Homo sapiens: one gene and its partners. The protein of the gene in region 3 purifies or fractionates together with the protein of the main gene of each other region. This does not show direct contact. Each region holds a gene or a part of one and is shown on either strand. Other genes may lie near its edges.

Region 1 (5,894 bases), on a different chromosome or scaffold from region 3:
CATGCCATTGCACTCCAGCCTGGGCGACAGAGCAAGACTCCATCTCAAAAAAGAAAAAAAAAGAGACTACCTCATACTTCATACACATACAAACTCTGGATGGATTAAAGGTCTAAATAGAAAAAACAAAGTTTTAAAGCTGTTAGAAGAAAATACAGATGGATATCTTTATGACCTCAGGTTAGAGAAGAATTTCTTAAAGATGACCCTAAATTATGAACCAAATGATGATGAAAACTAATTATGGAAAACTAATAATTTGATTATCTCAAAATTAAAAACTTTGGAATGGCAATACACACAAAAAGTTGAAACAGAAGATATACTGCAGGTAGACACTTGAAATTTATATAATAATAAAAGAGCGGTATTCAGAATAAATGAAGAACCTTTAAAAATTAATAGGGAAATAATTCAATGGGAAAATGGGCAAATGATTTGGACAGACAATTCACAGAAGAGGAACTCCAAATGGCCAATAAACATGTAAAAAGGGCCTGTAATCCCAGCATTTTGGGATGCTGAGGTAGGTGGATCACTTGAGGTCAGGAGTTCAAGGCCAGCCTGGCCAACATGGTGAAACCCTGTCTCTACTAAAAATACAAAAATTAGCCGGGTGTCATGGTATGTGCTTGTAATCCCAGCCATTCGAGAGACAGGAGGCAGGAGAATCGCTTGAATCCAGGAGGCAGACGTTGTGGTGAGCCGAGATTGTGCCATTGCACTCCAGCCTGGGCAACAAGAGCGAAACTCCATCTCAAAAAAAAAAAAAAAAAAAAGTAAAAGGGCCCCTTGCATCACCAGAGTCATACAAATACACATGAGAACAACACCAAAGTAGTTTTCATCCATCAGACTTGCAAAAATGAAAATTCTGAAAAATTAATAAATAAAGTATTTGGAAGAATACATAGAAATGACCCACACACTGCTGGTGGGAGTTCTAATTATTTCAGCCAATACAAGCGTAATCTGATAGAATCTAACTAAAATGCACATAAGCTATGACCTAACGATTTGACTTGTAGACACACAAACCCTAAAGAATCTCTCATACATGCTCAAGGGGACTTCCACAAGGATGTTCACTATAGCACTGTTAATAACAGCAGAATATTGAATACAACCTAAAACTGGGTAATAAATACATAGAATATTTTTTATTCACAGGGTGGAATACTGTAAAGAAAAAAACCCAAATATAAAAACAGCACCATATAAAAGTTTTAAAATAGATGAGGTCTAGCTTGTTGCCCAGTCTGGAGTGCAGTGCAGTGACTATTCACAGGCACTATCATTGCATACTACAGTGTCAGATCTCCCGGGCTCAAGCCATCCTCCTGCCTCAGCCTCCTGAGTGGCTGAGACTGCATGCCCGTGCCACCATCCCTGGTTTGTAGGACATTCTTATTATATGCCATGATATGCCATTTTAATTTAAAAATTCACCAAGGAGAAACATATGTTAAGGAGTACATATGAAAGAGTATAAAAAATGAACCAGAAGGGGCTGGGTGCAGTGGCTCACACCTGTAATCCCAGCTACTTGGGAGGCTGAGGCAGAAGAATCACTGGAACCTAGGAGGTGAAGGCTGCAGTGAGCAGAGATCACACCACTACACTCCAGCCTGGGTGACAGAGGGAGACTTTGTCTCAAAAAAAAAAAAAAGGAAACTTGGAGACTTAACCTCATAATAATGGATGTTTCTAGGGTTGAGAGGGACATGACAGAGGAAACGATGTTGGTGATGGTACTCAAGGCACTTCCACTACCTCAGTGACAGGTCTTTTATTAAAAAAAAAAAAAAAAGAGATTGAGCCAGGCACAGGTGGCTCATGCCTGTGAGCTACTTGGGAGGCTGAGGTGGGAGGATTTCTTGAGCCCAGGAGTTCGAGGTTGCAGTGAGCTATGATTGTGCCACTGCACTCCTACCTGGGTGACAGAGTGAAACCCTTCTCTCTAAAAGAAAAAAAAAATTGAAAAACAATGCCAATTCTCTAGAAGGTAAGTTAGTTATTGTTATACTGCTACTTGCCCGTTTCTGTTTTTCCCAAAATGTTAAACCCTTTGGTAAGTATAGTACTAGTAGTTTTACTACTGTAGCATTTAAACATGTAATCTACTATATCAGAAAAATCTTCACTATACCTGAATATAAAATATTTGCATGTAAAAAAACAAAAGTACTAGAAATAACACATGAATGAATTTTTATATAATATAGAGGAATAATATGGCATTTATAAAATTTGGTAAGCATGATAAGAAACCATGCAAAAGTTGGCTAGATCACACTATTAAAACAAACATTCATCTGTATGGCAAACACATATAAGTGAGGTTAAAATAATAAACTGGGCCGGGTGGAGTGGCTCATGCCTGTAATCCCAACACTTCTGGAAACTGAGGAGGATCATCTGAGCCCAAGAGTTCAAGACGAGCCTGGGCAACATGGCGAGACCCTGTCTCTACAAAAAAATTTTAAAAATCAGCTGAGTGTGGTCTCACTAGCTTATGGTCCCAGCTACTCGGGAGACTGAGATGGGAGGATCGCTTGAGAGTTCAAGGCTGTAGTGAGCTATAATTGAGCCACTGCACTCCAGCCTGGGCGACAGTGAGACCCTGTCAAGAATACTCCAATACAAAAGTACAAAGAAAGATAGATGAAATCATGTAAAAAAAAATGGTAAAGTTCAATGGTAATAATAGGAATTCAAGCAGGTGTAAAATGAAAAAAGACTATCCCAATGAAGTCAGGGTATGGGAAACAATGTCACTGACTCTCCGGGATTGTCAACAATCACAATTTGGGAATATTGGCATCACTGTCAAAATGTGCATACTTTTAAACCTATCATTCTTATGAGCGGGAATTTATCCTGATGAAATAACTAGACAAATATGCGACTATTCATTAGAGTGTTTTATATAAATGGTGCTCTTCCAACCTGGGCCCATGTGTTCCTGAGCCTACCTGACAGGGCATGTGGCTTGATCTCGGCTCACTGCAGCCTCCACCTCCCAGGTTCAAGTGATTCTCCTGCCCTCAGCCTCCTGAGCAGCTGGGATTATAGGCGCACACCAGTACACCTGACTAAATCTGTCTTTTTAGTAGAGATGGGGTTTCACCATGTTGGCCAGGCTGGTCTCGGAACTCCCAACCTCAGGTGATCCACCCGCCTCGGTGTCTCAAAGTACTAGGATTATAGGCGTGAGCCATGGCGCCCGGCCGCAAGGATAGTTTTAAGAGAGTCAATTTCTAGCTCTTCAACTTCCATGTGTACTCTTTCTTAAAAATTATATGTCTGTGAATGCCTTTGTGGTCAAGGCTTAGGCTGGTTTTCAGGAATCACTCCACCTGTCCTTTCTAATTCCCCTTTCACAATTATTTATCTACTTTACAAAAGAAAGGCGTATCTCCTAACCAGCCAAATCCTACTGTGGTGTATTGCCATGAGGCAAAAAAAAAAAAAAAAAAAAACCCAGAGAAGAGGAGAGGCAAACAAAATGCTGGTGTCTGTGGTGAATGTAAATGCCTCTAATAAAAATCCAAATTTTTAGCTTTCATAAAATTACATTGATAGTGGATGATCATTACAAATAATTTTTGATGATACATCACTGTGATTTTTTGTCATGTAATTAAGAAGGAATCAAAATAATTGAGTGGCACTATTGTAATATATCTTCTATTCCCAAACTCAAAGTATTTCTATTATTTTTAATTTGCTATCATAAAGAATATTGGGGTTTTTCCATTTTTATCAACTATAAAAAAAAATTAGGGATAGAAAAGGAACAGTTTCATTCACGCAGTAAATAATGTCGACCCAAAGATATGTGAATGTATAGGGAAAAAATCTCATCTTTCTTATTAAAGTCGTTGTAAGTAAACATAAAAAGTAATTATTATTATTATTTTAATATTTGTTTATTATTATTATATTTTAAGTTTTAGGGTACATGTGCACAACATGCAGGTTTGTTACATATGTATACATGTGCCATGTTGGTGTGCTGCACCCATTAACTCGTCATTTAGCATTAGGTATAAAAAAAAAAAGTAATTTTTAATTAAAATTTGTAACATTTGTTTTGATCAATTATATATTCTAATAATTGTGAAAACTCAATATAGAAGATATTTTCATCCTTTGAGATTTAATAAAAAGCTTAAAAATTCAATTTATAGAAAATAGGGCCTAGCTTGTTGCCCCTGTCATTTTTGTTGCAGATAAGCATGATAAGCTACTCAATAAAATATTTGAAAATATGTGTAATAAAAATATATCATCTCAGGGAGAAGTTCAAACAAACAAACAAAATATATCATCTTATGCTGAAATTCTGTAGAAGTACAACAAAGGAATTCAAGGAGGAAAGGGAAATGATATATAATTTTTGCCTGTTAAAGAAGAGCTGAGCTGTATATAAATGATGGTGGGTATGAAAAAGCAATAATATTTATACTTCATTTGATACATTTAAGGCTGATTTAAAAGTTTTATTTTAAAATGTCAATATTTACAGCCCCCCTCCCCCAAGAAATTACATGCTTTGCAACTACAATGAAAGATTTAGATATCAACTTTAAAAATGTACAAGGAAATATATGGACTTTCAATATTTTGGGAAAGAATATGCAAGCACAAGTTGTGAAGACACTTGATATATCAAATATGTGAAAACAGCCAGTCCATTAATAAGACATGATTAAATAAACAATGGTATATTAATACACTAGAATATTCAAAGAAGGGTATCAACAAGAATGATCTATATTCACTGACAATGAGCTCTCCCCATACTATTTTAAAAAGTATTTCTATTATTTTAAGCTTATTATCATAAAGAACACTGGTTTTCGTTTTTTAAAATAAGCAGGCCTTAAAATTCTGGTCAATGATAAAAGCTGTAAAAGAATACATCACCATGAGGGCAAAAAGACATCCACCAATCTCTTACAGCAACTCCAATTTTTCAGATTTCAAGCCATGAGATTAAAATGGAATAAATAAATAGACAGAGGTAGTTTTTTTTTTGTTTTTTGTTTTTTCGGTAATTTTCTTTACCAAAAAAAGGGTAGGAAGGTTAAGGAATAGAAAAAAACATTAGTTTTCTGAGATTCTCATACTGAATAAATTGTCATACATAAACCAGAGTCATTAACTTAAGCATAAAAATCAGTTTATCACTGTGGTACCACAATCTCTACATACTTATGTTAAAAATTTCCATTATTTGTTTGTCCTATAAGTTAGAAGAGAGAAATTACAGCAAGTGTTTGTTAACCACAGTAACAAAGGGCAGTGATAATTTATTGAGTGATGAGATGTGTCGGATGCTGTGTTAAGTGCTTTATCTACATGAACTTAATCCTTACAATAGTCCTGTGAGGTGTTAGCACCAATTTGCCAAAAAGGAAACTGAGGCACAGAGAGGTTGCATAACTTGATAGAGGTCACACAACTAGTAAATGGTTGGGCTGGATTTCAAACTCAAGTGTCTCACTCTAAAACTCATGTTCTTGACCATTCTCCTGCTTTGTCTTTTTATTCCTTCCAAATAAGTTCACCTCTAATCAATAAAACCTACTGAATATCTAAGGCATTATGTGTGGGGGATAGAGGGGGAGGGAGGTAACAACGAAGAGCAAGGACATTCATGGGATTTTCTATCTACTGTGATCTCCTTTGGGAGTAAAGAACTATATGCAACCTAGAGGAAAGGATGGGGGTAGGTATCAGGAGAGGAAAGAGAACTTGACTGAGTGCCTACTCTGGGCAGTACTTTAATCTTCTTAGCACCCTATGAGATAAACGGTGTTAACACCAATTTTATAGATGACATATCTGGAGCTCAGAGAAACCACATCTCTTGCCTAAGGTCAATA
Region 2 (5,894 bases), on a different chromosome or scaffold from region 3:
AAAACTAACTTGCGTTCCAAAAGGAAAGTGTTAATATGAGACGTGATACTGTGATCCTAAAGAAAAAAACAATAACAAAAAAAAATTTCATAATATCTAAATTCTAGGTAGAAAATTATATCAATTAGTTTTACAGGCTTGAAAACAGAGTTCTCTTTAAACAGTCAATATTATGTTATTTTTCCTCAGGTTTAGTATAACTATGAGAATTCTCTAAAAAATTTCCATGGCATTTGGTTTTAATAAAGATTTCTTTTATTTTTACGAATTTATCCCTGCCCCCCAAGATTTTTTTAAAAATAAGAGTATGGCCAGGCGCAGTGACTCACACCTGTAATCCTAACACTTTGGGAGGCCAAGGCAGGCAGATTACTTGAGCCCAAGAGTTCGAGACCAGCCTGAACAACATGAAGAAACCCCATCTGTACAAAAAATACAAAAAAGTTAGCTGGGTATGGTGGCACTCACCTGTAGTCCCAACTACCCAGGAGGCTGAGGTGGGAGGATCACCTGAACCCAGGGAGGTGGAGGCTGCAGTGAGCCATGATCACACCACTGCACTCTAGCCTGGGCAACAGACTGAGACCCCGTTTCAAAAAATAATAATAGTAATAATGAGTATGTATACTGACTTTTAAAGAAAATATATTCTCTCAACTCCAGATATTATAAGTTTGGATTTTCAACCATTTCTATCTTGAAGGAGGGACTTGTGAACTCTTGATCTTGCATTCCTTATTATACCAACATGTTTCTTGTACATTTCATGCATATAACATTTATTTAAATTTATAAGTATGTAAAGGGCAGTTAATAGTTCAAGGAGATTATATCTGAGGGCACAGTTCCCTAATAGATTAATATTTAGATTTGATTTTTAGCATTCACATTTGTTCTACTGAATATATGCATGCACACATAATACATTTAATTTATTAAAAACTTCATTTGCTCATTTTGGTTTTCCAAAAGGGAGCATGCACAATCTCAAACTGTGTATCCAATTTTGCACATCAAAGTACAACCAAGTTAGTATGACAAACCAATCAAGCTGGTGTTTTTTATGAACAGACTCTTCATAATAAGCTATGTTACCTGGAGGACCCTTTATTGGTGTTTTGGGGGATTCAATATGATCTCTGTGAATAGATTTTGGTCGCTGTTTTTTTTGTTTTACTACTTGAGGACGGGGTTTAATTACTGTATCCATATCTTCCATTAGTTTCAGTTGTTTCCGCCTCATATATTCTTGCCTAATAAATTCTCTGCGTGCTCTCTCATCTTCTTTCTTCTGACGTTCTTCCTCAGTTTTACGCCTAAGAAATCAAATGGTTACAGTTCTTATTCTGCATACCAAAGACAAACCATACAGGAGAGAGTTATGTATTTGATATGAGAAAGGAGAATTCTATTTCATCACCTTGGTGAATAAATGGTTCATTTAAAAGGTACTTGACGATTCTGCTGAGACATGGGATTAAGCATAAATAAGTAAATAAAGGAGGGAAGGAAGAGTCAAATAAATAAATAAAAATAAAGGTATTTGAGATAATTTAGGTCGTGTGTGTGTGTGTGTGTGTGTGTGTGTGTATCTCCCAGGAAAGTTATTTTAATGTTTTTTAAACATATAATTATTTAAATTAATGTTTCTAGAGAACTTTCCCATGAGATGCCTTAAACTTAAGATAAAAATATAAAATTAGGCAATACTTTGGGAAAATAAATTGATTTCTACAAAGCACCAAAAAATAGCATTGATCCAGCTGTCTATCTATACTACAAACTTCTCTGAAAGAAATCTGTTAATAAAAATTAATGAGAGACCACCTCTTTGAGTACTTACCAACTTTTTCTAAATATGCCCATGCATCATTAAAGTTCAGATCTAGCACTGGGCCAGCAATTTCCTTTACCTTGTTTCCTCCTTCTTATGCTCCATTTCTGCTTCCAACTGTTGTTTCCGGAGCTGAGTTTCCTTTTCCCTTCTTAATCTTTTCTCCAACAAAGCTGCCCGTTTCATTGCCATATCATTTTCTGCTTTTTGATCATCCTAAGAACGAATTTCATTGAAAACGATCAAACATTTTAGGTACCAATATTCTCATTTTCAATTGTTGTAGTCACATTTTGTGGTTAGTCCTATAACTGAAAGTTTGAACTATTACAACCCTTCTGAATGTGGGTGTGGTTGAGAAATTATGAAGGAAGAACGGAACTACAGTGGTAACAGTTCCATCAAAAAAGAGGACAGGCAAACTTATTTAATTACACTCTGTCAAAACCTATGAGATTTGCAAAGAACAACCATAAAAACAAAACAAAAAAGCACAAATTTTTTTTAACCCTAATTTAATAACTTACAGTAGGTAGTTCCCCCACCAATTTTTAAAATTGCATTTAAATTTTATTTAAAATATAAGCTCAGTAAAAATACCTCAAGTAAAAACATCCCAAAATTAGCCACCCAATGTTGTAGCACATAAATGAAACTATTGCTGCATGATTTTAAGTTGAGGTACTGACAGTCTGCTTGATAGGTTCTGAACTATAATGAACATTTTTCCATTGAAGAAAAGATGGGGATGATTATACTTCCCTTCTACAGTACTTTTAATTTGAGAGCTAGTTCATTATCTATAGGCCTCCTGGGCCTGCCCTAGTTTCTACCTGAATCCTTAGGGACAGCCCTAGTTCTCAGCGGGCTTCCAAAATGCTTCAGAATTCAGCAAAGTAACAAGCTGTTGTAGAAGTGGTTCACTGTCTTAATGTCTCCTTGTCAACTGTCCCTGCCAATGCTTAATTCAATAAACATTTCTTTGGTGTCTAACATACTCACAACATAGTGTCAGATATTACATATATTAAAATATATGGTACCTCAGGTCAAGGAGCCTAAAAAATCACAAGGAGAAGAGGTACAAACAACAGGCTTTGTATGGAAACCCAGAGAGAGATTTAACTCTGAATGGAGAAAGTCAGAAGATACCATTCAAGCAATTAGTTCAAACATTCATATGTCTTCATCTATCAAATTACATATATTGTAGTTTGCCAGACACTTTATTATGCTATGGGGATAAAAAGATGCAGTACCTTGGCTGGGCACGGGGGCTCATGCCTGTAATCCCAGCACTTTGGGAGGCTGAGGCGGGTAGATCACCTGAGGTTGGGAGTTCGAGACCAGCCTGACCAACGTGGAGAAACCCCATCTCTACTAAAAATACAAAATTTATTTTGTGGTGCATGCCTGTAATACCAGCTACTAGGGAGGCTGTGGCAGGAGAATCGCCTGAACCCAGGAGGCGGAGGTTGTGGTAAGCCGAGATTGCGCCATTGTACTCCAGCCTGGGCAACAAGAGCGAAGCTCTGTCTCAAAAAATAAATAAATAAATAAATAAAAATAAAAAGATGCAGCACCTCTAGGAGGTCATGGTCTAAGAGACAAAGCAAATCATACAAAACAGTTGAAAACTCCGGGACACAGGACAGGTATGAGTATATTTAAGGATACAATAGATACACAAATGATGAAACATTTGACCTCGACTGAAGGAATTATAAAAGGCTTTAGATGAAGCTTGAAGTTAATCTTAAAGAACAATACAAAATAAAATTATGGGGAAGAAGCTAGACAAAAAGATTTAGGTTCATCTGTGAAAGTCCCTGAATGTTGTGCTAAAGGGTTTGAACTTTATTCAACAGGCAAGATTTTTGACTAGAAAGAGACTCAATTGGAGCTATGCTCTTGGAACTATCACCTTTAGTAGCAGTATGAAGACTGGAATGGCATGATTGGAGACAGACAGCCCAGTCAAGAAGCTGTAACCATAGTCCAACAGATGAGTAATGGGGTGGTGAAGATGTGTAAATAAATGGAATAGAAATGAAGCAACAGAGGTACTGCCTGTTTTATACTAATGATTTTCTTCCCCTTTGTTTCCCTTCCTCTGCAAGGAACAGAGTCTCTAGGCAGTAAATTTTAATATCTATTAGTGTCTACAGTAGCATTCTGTTAAAAAAAATGGCAGTGTTACATGATTAAGAGACAAAATGGAATCATTCTCTGAAGAGATCTGAGTAGCTTAATTTTTAAAAGGCTTTTGTGAGTGAGAAAGAGCAGTAGAGGAGCAAAACCAAGGAATACATCTAAACATGTGATAAAAGGATTTATTACAGCTTTGAGTCCATACTGGAAACCACAGTGTGCTTGAATGTTACTATAGTTAATGGGGATGAACTTGTATCAAAAGGGACTGCTACTGAAAGAAGCAAGCATGTCAACTGAAAAAAAAAATATCCAACACAACCACACTCATCTAATGAAGATGCCCAAAACTATGCAGATTAATACTACACCTTAAAAAAGAATCCACAGCATACTTTCTGGTCATCATCAAATTGTTCTTTATCACTTTCTCCATCATATTTTTCAACAGGTACATCAGCCTTTTCAGGGGGTTTCAAATCTGAGAGGGAAACTTCAATCAGATTAACATTTTTTGGAGCAGTGGGTGGGAAAACGGGTTTAGGAGGGGGTTCTGTGGGTTGATTCAATTGGTCCTCATTTGGTGTCAGACATACAGTCTCTGTGACAGGCAGTGATAGGACTTCAGAGACTGTTGACTCAAAAGGTTTGATTTCCTTTTCTTCTGGATTATGTCCACGCTGTTCCAAAGTCCCTTTGGATTCCAATTCCTCCTTTTTAACTTCCTCTTTAGGTTTGGATTCCTTTAACTGAGGTTCTCCATCATCCCCAAAACATACAAATGACCTAGTTTGAATAGGAACTTGACTTGGTGAAAACCTCCTTAACCGAGGAAGGCTATCCACAGACCGAGGAGGTGTCAAGGTTCGATTCAAAGGTGTTATTTTTAACTCATTTGGCCTAGGAGTCCTTTGACTTTTAACAGAAAAAGATGCACTTTTCCTGTTAGAAGACTGTGGAGATGGGTGAGTAGGACGAGGGGAGTCTGAGGAGAATGGTGCAATGGCTGATGACAGGCCTGCCTGCTTAGAAGGCTTAAAATCTCGAATCTGTTTCTGTGGAGAGGGTTGTGGAGGTGAAATCACCCAAGATTGTTGCTCTCTCATCTGCATTAACATCTCCTGCTGAAGTGACAAGCGTTGCATTTCTTGTTGTAGAAAATGCAGGGATGAATTTAACTTTTCAATGGATTTGGTATATTCTAAAATCTCTCCTTCATTTAAAGTTTCTTCTGAGGGGCTTGCCAGGTTCCACTGCTTCTCAGGATCAATAGGTGTAGTTGGAGACTTTAGCCATTTGGCTTGAGGATTCTCCATGCTCTCTTTTATATCTGCCAGTGACTTGCTCCTTTGTCCATCAGTTTTTTGTGATTCCTTTTCTTTTGCTCGATCAGTATATACTTTCTCATCTTCTGCACCCGCCGCTTCCTCTCGTAGAGGAGATATCCCATCCCCTTTCTTTTTCACTACAGTAAGGAATGCTGTCCTTCCCATTTTCTGTCTCTGTTTGGTAAAAGCAGCTTCCATTTTCTTTTTCTGGGCTTCTATAGCACGCCTCTTTTCTTCTAGTTTCATCCTAAGATGCACCATTTCAGAGGCCAACAGCTGGGTAGTGTCCCGTCCCTGTGGAAGCCCTGTTTCTTCTGGAATTTGTGCCCAAGCAACCACATGAGGAATATTAAGTTCAGAGCCTTCTGGTGTAGTTTTTTGAGAACTGCTTCCACTACTTTTTCCATCGGTATGATTCAGTTTCCTGAATTTTTGTTCAGCAAAGCTGGTCATTTTAACTCCAGAACTAGAAGAAGCACTGCTGCCTGGCTGAGACTTGGTACTTACAGTACTTGGACAAGGACTCAAAGCTTCCCTGGTGTTGCCAGTTCGAATATCATAATCCTGAAGAAATTTAGATG
Region 3 (6,621 bases):
AATAGATAAAAGGCCGGGCGCGGTGGCTCACGCCTGTAATCCCAGCACTTTGGGGGGCCGAGGCGGGCGGATCATGAGGTCAGGAGTTTGAGACCAGCCTGGCCAACATCGTGAAACACCGTCTCTACTAAAAATACAAATAAAATTAGGTGGGAGTGGTGGCGGGTGCCTATAATCCCAGCTACTTGGGAGGCTGAGGCAGGAGAATTGCTTGAACCCGGGAGGCAGAGGTTGTAGTGAGCCGAGATCGCGCCACTGCAATCCAGCCCGGGCGACAGTGCGAGATTTCGTCTCAAAAAAAAAAAAGGGTAATAATCACTACATGGTTTTTAAACTTTAGTGAAAGCGCGGGCTAGCTGGGGGGCATGAGCATGGAAAACTGGTTATCCCGTAGGTCAAGAGCGACCACGTAGTTTACTGCCCAAAGCAGTACTTTTTTTTGAGACAGGAGTCTCACTCTGTCGCCCAGGCTGGAGTGCAGTGGCGCGATCTCGACTCACTGCAACCTCTGCCTCCCGGGATCATGTGATTCTCCTGCCTCAGCCTCCCGAGTAGCTGGGATTACAGGCGCGCGCCACCAGGCCTGGCTCATGTTTGTAATTTTAGTAGAGACGGGGTTTCGCCGTGTTGGCCAGGCTGGTCTTGAATTCCTGACCTCAGGTGGTCCACCTGCGTCGGCCTCCCAAAGTGCTGGGATTACCGGGGTGAGCCACCACGCCCGGCCCAAAGCAGGGCACTTCTGAAAAAGGAGGCAATATTAGTAATTATGCCAGGGCAGCAGGCATAAATCAAAGCTGGCCCCCCACCCTTCCAGAACTGAGACAGGACCCAGGAGTCTGGTTTCCCATCAGGCCTCTTATCTGAACGAGAAGCTCTGCGAGGGCAGAACTGCTGTGCCTATATAGAGCTGGCTTATTTCTGGAGGGCTCAAATCTACTTGGAGCAATGCTCATGCCACTGTGAGATGATCACGGCTAACCGATTCAGCACTTAGGAAGCGCCAGGTATTGCGCTGAGGACTTCACATGCATCACCTGAGTTAATTCTCACCAAACCTTTATGAGGTAGGCGGATTTATTATCTTCCACTGAGGAAACTAAAATTTAAATTGGTTAACTCCTTCAAGGCCACACATTTTGGGTGGAGGAGCAGGGATTGAAATCAGATGAGGATCATGAACCCTCGTTCTCAATTACTACTCATATCGGTGCCTCCGTTTTTCTTGAGCGTCCGCCTGCCTGCCCCCACGCTGGCGTGCAGCCAGGACCATGGACATCTGAGAGGCTACTCAGCCGGGGTACCTACAGCCCCTGGCTCCACACAAGCGCCGGTCTGACAGCAGGTGGCAAGCTTTTCCTCTTCTCAAGCTAGCACTGGAAGGGATGCTTGCTGGGGAGACCGGAGATGGGTGGAGCTACCACTCGGACGCCTGCAGGCTCCTACCAAAAAGAATCCTGCAGGGAGCCGGATGAGGAGCACCTCACAGCTGCCAGTTCCCTGCCAGGCTACCCGCTGTAGCTGGTTTGAGGGCTCAGTGAGGCTTTGAACTGCAACTAATGGCCACAGATGTCAATGTTGGAAAGGCCCTACAATGCATTTAGTTGATTTCCCAACTCTGCCGAAAGCCATCTCTATTACTTGCCCCCGAAGGCTAGTTTAAGTTGCTTCTACTCAAGAGCATTTACAGCTTGGGTTCGATGTATATGTAGCCCGGGCATGGGGCAGGGCTTCTTAACATTTGGACACCACGCAGCACAAAGGCCCAGAGAGGGAAAGAGACTGGCTGGAAGAGGCAGAGCCGCGCGGGTGCCAGGACCCAGGTCCTTGCTACGTCCGGAGCCTACGTCACCACGATGCCTCCCCTGGGCCGGCGGCAGAACCCGAGACCCCCGCAGGTTCTAAGACAGCCCCCACGCCCCCCAGTGCGCACGCTCAGTCCAACCCCGCCGCGCACCGCCCACCGCGAACATCCGGCTCCTGCGTGTGTGCTCGAGGGGGAAACTGAGGCGGGGACGTGCCAGTGAATTCATTCCTTCCTCAGTCCACCCGCAGGCCTACAAAGCTGTCTCCCCTTCCTCAGCGCCACAAGGAACAGCAGGGACGGATGGGAAGAAGGGGAGGGGGCCGAAAGCAAGCTGGGTGCGAGGAGCCAGCCGACCCTGCCACACTCAAGATGGCGGCGCGGCCGCGGCGAGGTCCCTCAGAGGCGGTACCAGCGCATGCGCAGCGCGGAGTCCCGGCCCGGGACACAAGATGGCGGCAGCGGCGCTGGGGAGGGCGAGGCGGAGGCGGCAAAACGGGCGGTCGAGCAGAACGTGTAGCCGCGTCCCCTCCAGTCCGCTCCGGGCAGGTAAGAGTCCCAGGAAGCCATGGTCCCGCAGCGAGCCGCGCCAGGGTCTGGGGATCCGAAGCTGGGGGGCGGCGGCCCCTCCGGCGCTTTCTGCTCGGGACTGCCGCTTGCCCTGTCTCTGTTGCCGCCGCCATCTTAGACCCGCGGGTGGGCGGCCGCGCCGGTGGCCGAAGTGAGGGAGGTGGGCCCGGAGAGCCCCAGCGGAGCGGGCTCTAGGGCCCCTCCGCTGCTGCCGCCGCCACCGCCTTTGTGTCGGGCTCCGACTCTGAGTCGCCTCAGCCCGGGGGCGGGAGCGCGCGGCGGGGCGGGGGGCGGAGCCCGAGAGATGGGCCGGCGCGCGCGCGCGCGCCAAACAGCCCACCCTCGCTGGGGTAGGGGGAGGGGAAGGTGCGCGCGCGCGCGCGCGCTGGAGCTCGCCTCTCGCCTTCGTGCGCCGTCGCGCCTGCGTACTTTGTTCGCCCTTTGACTCCTCCCTACTGGGCCGGAGAATTCTGATTGGTACATTGCGGAGATGGTCCCGCCCCACGTGCCTCCAATCCCGGACTCGGACTCTGGCTTCTGGTGGGTTTTTCTGGTTGCGCAGATAGAGTTGTTTATCCTTGAGCAGCGGTAATTCTCAAACTGCGGTATGCGTGGGGGTCGGGAAGCCACAGGATAAATAAAGACGTTAACTTAAGAGCAGTTATGTCTTACTGGGAGCGTACAATGCTGGACTCTACATATAACGGTCGAGTGATTCCGGTTTATAAGCCGGAAAGCAGAAGGGCCCGGAATCCGGGTCTGTCCAACCCAGGGGCTGGTACTTCGGCCACAGACCTGCTGCGCTCAAGTCACATAGGAAATTAAAAATGGTTTTAATTGCAAAAAATGGGTACATTTTTTCAAATAGTGTGAAAAAATGAGTCATCCTGTCTCCCAGTCACTCTTACGGTGCGTTTTAAAAATACAAATTCTTGTGTGCCTCACCTCCGTATTTATTTCTGGCTTCTGAGATGCGCAGTGAGGCACAGGAGTCTGATTTTTTTTTTTTTTTTACAAACTCCAAGATGATTCTGATGCACAGCTGGCTTTGGAAATACTGCAGTGTCCCCATTTAGCCTCACACTAAGCTGTGCCGCTTGTGCGTATTCTGCAAAGTTCATCTACCCGGTGCATCAATATCACAGGATGTTTCTTGGGGAAAATATTTTTCAATAAAGGCGAACAAGATGTGTCACATAATGTGTTTGCATGTTTTTGTTTTTGCAAGACATTATTCAGAGCGTGTCTTTGACTTGCTGTGGGAGGCTTGGGATTGTGCCCCCACAGATCAGTGATAGGTATGTTTGTTGATTTTTCTCTGGTCTAAGGGTACTTTATTTTATTTTTTATTTTTATTTATTTATTTTGAGACGGAGTCTTGCTCTGTCGCCTGGGCTGGAGTGCAGTGGCGCGATCTCAGCTCACTGCAACCTCCGCCCCCTGGGTTCATGCCATTCTTCTGCCTCAGCCTCCCGAGTAGCTGGGACTACAGGCTCCCGCCACCACGCCGGGCTAATTTTTTTTTTTTTTTTTTTTTGTATTTTTAGTAGAGACGGGGTTTCACTGTGTTAGCTAGGATGGTCCCGATCTCCTGACCTCGTGATCCGCCCATCTGGGCCTCCCAAAGTGCTGGGATTACAGGCGTGAGCCACCGCGCCCGGCCTCTTTTATTTTTTAAGAGATGAGGTCTTGCCCTGTCACCCAGGCTGGAGCACAGTGGCATGATCATACTTCACTGCAGCCTCGAACTCCTGGGCTCAAGTGACCCTTCCACCTCAGCCTCCTGAGTAGCTGGGACTGCAGGTGCAATTTTTTTTTATTTGGGCCCGGCGCAGTGGCTCACACCTGTAATCCCAGCACTTTAGGAGGCCCAGGTGGGTGGATCTCTTGAGGTCAGAAGTTCGAGACCAGCCTGGCCAACATGGTGAAATCCCGTCTCTACTAAAAGTACAGAAAATTAGCCAGCTGTGACTCATGCCTGTAATCCCAGCTACTGAGAGGCTGACACAGGAGAATCGCTTGAACCCAGGAGTTGGAGGTTGCAGTGAGTCGAGATCGTGCAATGCACTCCAGCCTGGGTGATGGAGTCTCACTCCGTCTCAAAGGAAACCAAAACCAACCAAACAAAAAGCTTTATTTGTTGTAGAGCTGGGGGCTCACTATGTTGCCGAGGCTGGTTTTGAACTCCTAGCCCAGCTCCCAAGTTGCCAAAGCCACGTGCCCAGCCTAAGGGTACTTCAGTTGGCAGGACTGGCTACAGAGTTTGTGGGGCCCAGTGTGCAAAATGTAAATGTGAGCTCCTTGTTAAAAAGTTATTAAAAATTTTAAGACAGTGACGGCAGAGCCTTACACCAAGCTCAGGGCTTTCCTGAATGTGGATCCCTGTGCAGCCGTGCAGGTCACATGCCCATGAAAGCAAACCTATTGGTGAGAAAGCTTAAGAGGTATCATTTTCATCCCCTGTATTCCCTCATCCCCTCTCCCGGTGTGTCCTGCCCTGGAGGCCCCCAACTTGCTCTTTGTTTTTGTCCCTCTTGTCCCTGCCCTGCAGCATCCCACAGGTCTGTGACTGTTTTCCTATTTGCTTTCCAGCTGCTGATGCAAGGAATCCCCTGGGCTCCCGTCCACTCCACTGCTGACCAGCCCATTCGCCTGTGCTGAGTCTTCCTGCAGGCCTTTCCTTGCCTCTGTGGGACCCTGTGGGGGTCCATCCGGCTGGAGAAGAAAAGCCTCTCATGCTAACGTTGCAGACCCCAGAGGGTGAGAGAAAGGGGGACTTCATTCAGTCTTGAAACCTGTGTGCTCAGCCCCCAAGGCATCAGGAATTCTTCCTGCCCAGAGAATCAAGGCAGCTTCATTTTTTTCGTACCTTGGTCAGTGGTTCTCAACCTTTTTGTTATCAAGGCACTTTTTGTTGTACATATGTCCTGTTGCCCCCTGCATTTTTATCTGCCAAACTGTACTGATGGAGTAACCATTGACTTTTCCCTTCCTAAATTAAGGAAGACGTCTATGATGGAGTGTACAATAAAATCAGTGTCCCAATGATTCGTATGATGTCATCAACAACCAATCAGAGCTTCTGATCAGCATGAGATAATCAGTGTGACCACAATGAGTTGATAAAATTTCAGCATGAAAAGATAACTGATGTTTAAGCCTGCCTTTGTGGTCTTGTTGTGGGCAAAAGTTTGATTTCTTTTGGGTGGTGTGACCTACTGAAAACAACTTTAGCATCACCAGTTCTATCTCAGTTAGCTCCCAGTTGTCTGACAGCCCCAGGCCAGAAGCACTTTGGCTCCTGAGGCTGTTGCTGGGTGTGCTTTGGGTGGGGGAGTAGGGAATACAGATCTGAAGGAACTGGCCTCCTTGCTGGTACTTACAGTAAATATTCACCTGGGGATTATGAAGGAGTCAATTAGATAGTCCTTCTTGGTTGCATTGGTTATTTTAGCAATAGCTGCTTCCTGCCATGTAGTGTAAAATAAGGTGACCAATTAGATTCCATGCCCTTCCCTAGTGTGCTTTGTTCCTTTTAGATTTTACTGGATGAGAGCAGTAAAATCCCATCTCCTTCTGGGAGTTGTTACTATTCCTTCTTGTAGGAATCGCTTCTCAAGGGCAGACCCTGTTCTGTCTTTTTTGCTGCTCTTGGTGCTTTGTAAATATTTGCAGAATCAGTAGTGCTCCTGTTGGGTCCAGGTCCTAGGCCTGAGCACAGGAGAGAGCTGAATTGGACGCAGTTCCTATTTCTGGAAGTTCTGACAGTTTAGTGGGGAGACAAACCCAGCTGATAGATGAGACCATCTGAGTGCTACGACAGAGGTGTTCACGGCCCTGAGGAGGAGCTCTGACCACCTGGCCTGGGGAGGGGAGAGTCAAGGAAGGCTTCCTGGAGGATGTGAACCCAGTAGCAAGCCAGGCAGAGAAGAGGGGGAGGGGCATTTCAGGCAGAGGAAGCAGCAGGAGTGCACCCATTGAACAGCTGGAATTGCAGCTTAGATCCCAGGGCTGCTGTGTGGCACCATGCTGGCCCTCCAGGATAGGACCTGATTGGATTTCTCCACATCGGTGGGTGGTCACTGGGGCCCTGGGTGGATTGTAATTGGCGGGTGAGGGGGTGGAGCTGACACTCTTTGGTCCTCTGTGTGGCAGGTCCTGTGTGGGTGTGGAGATGGCCAATGAGAATCACGGCAGCCCCCGGGAGGAAGCGTCCCTGCTGAGTCACTCCCCAGGTACCTCCAATCAGA
Region 4 (5,894 bases), on a different chromosome or scaffold from region 3:
TTACCTCATATGGGCATCAAGCACCTACTAGATGTTGGGTGCTAAAGTAGATAAGGCAATAAATAGCTCCTAGACTTTTGATTGTGGACCAGTTAAATTTCTTTTAAACTGTGGGGTATTGGGACCCAGGATTGTCAACTTTTTGTATTGCCCAAGTAAGTATGTTAGCCTACCATGTATCATCATTTTATAAAAGGATATTATAGTACTAAGAAAGGAGGATGGCCTTGACTTCAGAATGAAGAACAGTTCTTCCAAAGAAAGGTACATGGCAACCTTACATCAATATATCTGTTATATAGCCCTTATTTTGCTCATTCAGTCATAATCCAGAGAAAACTTTGCCATAGACTGGCTTTGGTCTGTGACCTACTATTTGAAAACCACTGGCTGGGTGCGGTAGCTCATGCCTGTAATCCCAGCACTTTGGAAGGCTAAGGTGGGCGGATCATGAGGTCAGGAGTTTGAGACCAGCCTGGCCAACATAGTGGAACCCCGTCTCTACTAAAAATACAAAAACTTAGCTGGGCATGGTGGCGGGAGCCTGTAATCCCAGCTACGTGGGAGGCTGAGGCAGGAGAATCGCTTGAAGCCGGGAGGCGGAAGTTGCAGTGAGCCAAGATGCCGCCACTGCACTCCAGCCGGGGCAACAGTGCAAGACTGTATCTCAAAAAAAAAAGAAAGAAAGAAAGAAAGAAAGAAAGAAAAAAACCGACTAAAATGGGCCAGGTGTGACCCATTGTCCTGGCTTGTCTTGGGTAACTGGGACTATAGGTGTAACCACTATAGAGAGGAAATTCACAGGTCTACAGTCCCCATTCCAAATAATACTAAACTCTACAAGCTCACGCCTGTAATTCCAGCACTTTGGGAGGCCAAGGCAGGCGGATCACTTGAGGCCAGGAGTTCAAGACCAGCCTGGCCAAAATGATGAAGCTTCGTCTCTAATAAAAATACAAAAATTAGCCAGGCATTGTGGCACATGCCTGTAATCCCAGCTGCTCGGGAGGCTGAGGTAGGAGAATCGCTTGAACCTGGGAGGTGGAGGCTGCAGTGAGCCAAGATCGTGCCACTGCACTCTAGGCTGAGAGACAGACTAAGACTCCATCTCAAAAAAAAAAGAAAAAACCACTGAAATGGACTAGGGGGCAGTGGCTTGCGCCTGTAATCCTAGTACTTTGGGAGGCCAAGGTGGGAGGATTGCTTGAGGCTGGAGTTCAAGACCAGCCTGGGCAACATAGCAAGACCCTCTGTCTATGAAAAATTTAAGAATTAGGTGCACATAGTAGTTGCACCTATAGTCCCAGCTACTCAAGAAACTGAGGATAGAGGATTGCTCGAACCCAGGAGTTCAAGGCTGCGATGAGCTAGGATCACACCACTGCACTCCAGCCTGGGCGACAGAGCCAGATCCTGTCTCAAAAACAACAACAGCAACAAATGCTAATTGCTTCTCATGATTTTGTGGGTTGGTTGGGTGGTTCTGGGCTTGGCTGGATGAGCTAGGGTGGCCTCACTTACATTTCTGGGGCTTCAGCTGGGATGGCCACCATGCTGGAAGCCTTCCTCTGTGAGGCTCATACTCTATAGCAGACAAGCCAGGACAATGGTGAGGGGTTCTCAGCAGCAAAGAAGGAAAGACAAGCCCTTCTCAAGTCTCTGTTTGCTATATATATGTTAATGTCCCGTTGGCCAAAGCAGGTCACATGGCCAAGCACAGTCTTAAGGGTGGAGAAGTAGGTTCCATCTTTTGATGGGATCTTGGTAGAATCCCACCTGCAAAACCACATTGCAGAGGGGTGCATGGACAAGGATGAGAGGGAATTTTTACAATAAACATGAGATGATTGTAAAAATGGAATGCAGGAGATAGATGTAAAAGTGTTAGGAAGTGGCCGGGCGTGGTGGCTCACGCCTGTAATCCCAGCACTTTGGGCGGCTGAGGCGGGTGGATCACGAGGTCAGGAGTTCAAGACCAGCCTGGCCAAGATGGTGAAACCCCATCTCTACTAAAAATACAAAAAAAATTAGCCAGGGGTGGTGGCACGCACTTGTAATCCCAGCTACTCCGGAGGCTGAGGCAGAGAATTGCTTAAAAAACCTGGAGGGGCAGAGGTTGCAGTGAGCTGAGATGGCGTCACTGCACTCCAGCCTGGGCGACAGAGCGAGACTGTCTCAAAAAAAAAAAAAAAAAAAAAAAAAAAAGTTAGGAAAATTAGAAGTGATCTCCACTTATTTTTTTAATTATTATTTAATTAATTAATTTATTTATTTTTTGAGACGGAGTCTCGCTCTGTCGCCCAGGCTGGAGTGCAGTGGCGCCATCTCGGCTCACTGCAAGCTCTGCCTCCTGGGTTCACACCATTCTCCTGCCTCAGCCTCCCGAGTAGCTGGGACTACAGGCGCCCACCACCACGCCCGGCTAATTTTTTGTATTTTTAGTAGAGACGGGGTTTCACCGTGTTAGCTGGGATGGTCTTGATCTCCTGACCTCATGATCCGCCTGCCTCGGCCGCCCAAAGTGCTGGGATTACAGGTGTGAGCCACCGCACCCAGCCCTGTGATCTCCACTTAGAAGGAGCAATTCATGCTTCTCAGCCTACTGTAGGGAAAAATGTTATTATTTATTATTATTATTTTTTTAAATGGAGTTTCACTCTTGTTGCCCAGTCTGGAGTACAGTGACGTGATCTCTGCTCACTGCAACCTCCACCTCCCAGGTTCAAGTGATTCTTCTGCCTCAGCCTCCTAAGTAGCTGGGACTAAAGGTGTGCACTGCCACACCCGGCTAATTTTGTATTTTTAGTAGAGATGGGGTTTCACCATGTTGGTCAGGCTGGTCTCGAACTCCTGACCTCAAATGATCCACCTGCCTCGGCCTCCCAAAGTTTTGGGATTACAGGTGTGAGCCACCACACCCGACCGGGAAAAATGTTATTAAAGAAAGCAGTCTTGTGCTATACGCTCTGAGTTTGCTTATGTCTCTATCCTCATGAAACCTGTTGTTCTCATGAGCAGAGTCCATGGGAGTTAAGCCTGAGAGTTTAGGGGGCTATTTTTGCAGCACATTTACCAGCTCCCCAAATAAAATTTTGATGCTCTTCATGTTTTCAAGTTTGAAAAGATCCAAAAGCTGACTGGGGCTCCTCACACGCCTGTTCCTGCACCGGACTTCCTGTTTGAAATTGAGTACTTTGACCCAGCCAACGCCAAATTTTATGAGACCAAAGGAGAACGAGACCTAATCTATGCATTTCATGGTAGCCGCCTAGAAAACTTCCATTCCATTATCCACAATGGCCTGCACTGCCATCTGAACAAGGTGGGGCCTAAGGGACACCCTGCTGATGTGGGGAAGCAGGGATGGAGGTGGGAGAGTGGGGAGGGGGAGATTCAGAACCCTAGGAGTTTGCAGGTGGGGTCGGGTAGGTTTACTAACGCCTTCTCACTCAAAATGTGGTCTGCACACCAGCAGTGGCAGCATCACCTGGAGACCTAAGAAAATGCAAAATCTTGGGCACACTCTAGACCTTCTGAATCAGAACCTGCATTTTAACAAGATCTCTAGGTGATTCCTGCACTGGTTATAGTTTGAAAAGCGTCGATTTAAAGATAGTTCCCGACCTTGGCTGCATATTTAGAATCACTCGGGGAGCTTTTAAAAATCCCAGATGCCAGGCCTGGCGCAGTGGCTCACGCCTGTAATCCCAGGACTTTGGGAGGCTGAGGGAGTTCCAGACCAGCCTGGCCAACGTGGTGAAACCCCATCCATACTAAAAATACAAAAATTAGCCGGGCATGGTGGTGGGTGCCTGTAATCCCAGCTACTCGGGAGGCTGAGGCAGGAGAATTGCTTGAACCTGGGAGGCAGAGGTGGCAGTGAGCTGAGATCGTGCCATTGCACTCCAGCCTAGGTGACAGAGTGAGACTCCATCTCAAAAATTAAAAAATAAAATAAATAAATAATAAAAAATCCCAGATGCCTGGCTGCATCCCAGACCAATTAAATGAGAATCTCCGAGTGGAGCACAGGCATCAGTTGCTTTAAAAGCTCTCCAGGTGATCCCACTATGTAGCCAACCCTAGCTCCACTGTGCGTTCCCTGGACCAGCAGCGTCTGCATCACCTGGTAGCTCGCTGGAAATGCGAATCTCAGGCGCAGACCACCTGATCGGAATCCACACTTTAACAAGGTCCCCAGGTGATCTGTATGCATATTGAAGTTTGAGAAGCACTTTCCTTGGGGACCACACTCCAGGAAATCAGCCCTTGGAGAAACTGAGGGATATGCCAAGATGCACCGAGGAGAGGTCCTTTCCCTCCCCTCTTGAGCTGCTTTTGTCCCATTTTTATGAGTCAAAACAGTCATCTATCCACTTCTCTGCAGGCATTTATTTTACCCCTCAGGTATAGGAGGAGCATTACAGACAGACCCTGGAGCTACAGAGACTTACTTAGCAGCTCTATGGCCCTGAGTAAATTAAACTCTCTGAGCCTCAGGTTCTTCATCTGTAAAAAAGGACACCATTACCCTCCTTCTTATATGTCAGAGAATTAAAACAGTTCATGTATGCAAAGGGCTCTTTGTGTACTAAGTACCAAGGAAGAGGTAGCTGCTTTTATATGCTGATGGAGGGGCATCTAGGGTAGTTGGAGGAGCTGCAGGCCTTTCCCCCAGTCATGGCAGTATCTGCCTTGTCTGTGAGGAGCTGGCTCCATGAGCCATGGGCTCAGTTGTGGCTGCTGCAGCCCTGAGACTGGAGATATTTCCCTGGTGTATCTGGTTAATGTCGTTGGGTTTTGCTAAGGATGACGGGCTTGTTTACACTGGCTCTCAGTCCACCACTGGCTCTCAGCTTACCATTATGTCCAGGCTACTGGAATTCAGGGGGCTTCCCCTTTACACTGGTGCTGGCCTGGAGAAGTTGCCTGCAGATTATACTCTTGTACACTAAACCTTCATTTTAGTGCCCCAGGGAGTTTGCTGCTTAGAGGCATCTTACAAAAATCCTTTGGTAAAGCACATCAATCCTCCTATGGCCCCTCTGCCTGGGTTTTCAGTGAAGGGCTTGCTTGAGGGAGTCCATCTGCCAGTTGATACTGATACTGTTTTCATGGCAGAGATACACTGAGCTTCCCACTCTTGTACACCACTGCTCATGGCAGCCTTGCATGGGGTTCTCAAGTCTAAGGAAGGGTGAACACATGATGGCATAAGCAGAGAATGGATGTGGGGTCAGATCAGAGGGCATCCAGTGTCATTGGAGAAGGTCTGTGTCAGCTTTTGAGAGATGGAGACCCTGCCTAACTTGGCAAAGAGCTTCCCAAAGGCCAAGCAAAGGTCTGTTTCATTTCCCCTAAGCTTCACTTAACAGATTTAGGATTTTGGAAGCCTGGTGCTACTGAAAAGGACATTTCTCAATTCCAGAGCATAAGATATTCTTCAGTGAGCTATTCAAGTCCACTTATCTTGAGATACTGATAGTGTGGCTCAGGGATAGCAGTTGAATTTCAACCTGAGCGTCAATGTCCATCCATTGGTCGCAGCTACCTGGAATGTTAAGTTGAGGATTCTGGATCATTAGGAATAAGTGCCATGCTTGATATTACTGTGCTGGCAATTGTGGTTTGTTATTGGTCATCTACCATGGGCAAAGATGTGTTCACTATGCCTGCTGTAGCCTCAACTTACAGGTCCTTCACCTGGCATGCTTCCTTATGGAGGGCACCACCAGGGAGATGCTGCCTAGATTTTTAGATGTTTTCTTGGTCAACCCCAATACAAAGAGTAAAACGTACCTTGCCCCGCATGTCGGCCTCCCTCATTTTGTTATAGTTTCTGGTCTAAGAGACTAATTTCTAATTTATTTATTATTTTTAATTTTTATGTTTTT

What was found.
Region 1: the proteins of PCIF1 (region 3) and TUT7 purify together in Homo sapiens (affinity purification with mass spectrometry; one large-scale study listed by BioGRID and IntAct). This does not show direct contact.
Region 2: the proteins of PCIF1 (region 3) and CAMSAP2 purify together in Homo sapiens (affinity purification with mass spectrometry; one large-scale study listed by BioGRID and IntAct). This does not show direct contact.
Region 4: the proteins of PCIF1 (region 3) and PARP16 purify together in Homo sapiens (affinity purification with mass spectrometry; one large-scale study listed by BioGRID and IntAct). This does not show direct contact.

What each region holds. Positions count from the first base shown.
Region 1 is NC_000009.12:86,290,814-86,296,707, forward strand, and holds part of TUT7 (terminal uridylyltransferase 7), read right to left. Parts: exon of another isoform or gene 4,485-5,894; intron 1-4,484. UniProt on the Homo sapiens protein: Uridylyltransferase that mediates the terminal uridylation of mRNAs with short (less than 25 nucleotides) poly(A) tails, hence facilitating global mRNA decay. Essential for both oocyte maturation and fertility.
Region 2 is NC_000001.11:200,848,697-200,854,590, reverse strand, and holds part of CAMSAP2 (calmodulin-regulated spectrin-associated protein 2), read right to left. Parts: coding exon 4,357-5,894; intron 2,051-4,356; coding exon 1,914-2,050; intron 1,317-1,913; coding exon 1,096-1,316; intron 1-1,095. UniProt on the Homo sapiens protein: Key microtubule-organizing protein that specifically binds the minus-end of non-centrosomal microtubules and regulates their dynamics and organization.
Region 3 is NC_000020.11:45,932,455-45,939,075, forward strand, and holds the start of PCIF1 (mRNA (2'-O-methyladenosine-N(6)-)-methyltransferase), read left to right. Parts: upstream 1-2,228; 5' UTR 2,229-2,350; exon of another isoform or gene 2,351-2,617; intron 2,618-2,744; exon of another isoform or gene 2,745-2,911; intron 2,912-4,963; 5' UTR 4,964-5,131; exon of another isoform or gene 5,132-5,244; intron 5,245-6,526; 5' UTR 6,527-6,545; coding exon 6,546-6,621. UniProt on the Homo sapiens protein: Cap-specific adenosine methyltransferase that catalyzes formation of N(6),2'-O-dimethyladenosine cap (m6A(m)) by methylating the adenosine at the second transcribed position of capped mRNAs.
Region 4 is NC_000015.10:65,263,990-65,269,883, reverse strand, and holds part of PARP16 (protein mono-ADP-ribosyltransferase PARP16), read left to right. Parts: intron 1-3,115; coding exon 3,116-3,322; intron 3,323-5,894. UniProt on the Homo sapiens protein: Intracellular mono-ADP-ribosyltransferase that plays a role in different processes, such as protein translation and unfolded protein response (UPR), through the mono-ADP-ribosylation of proteins involved in those processes.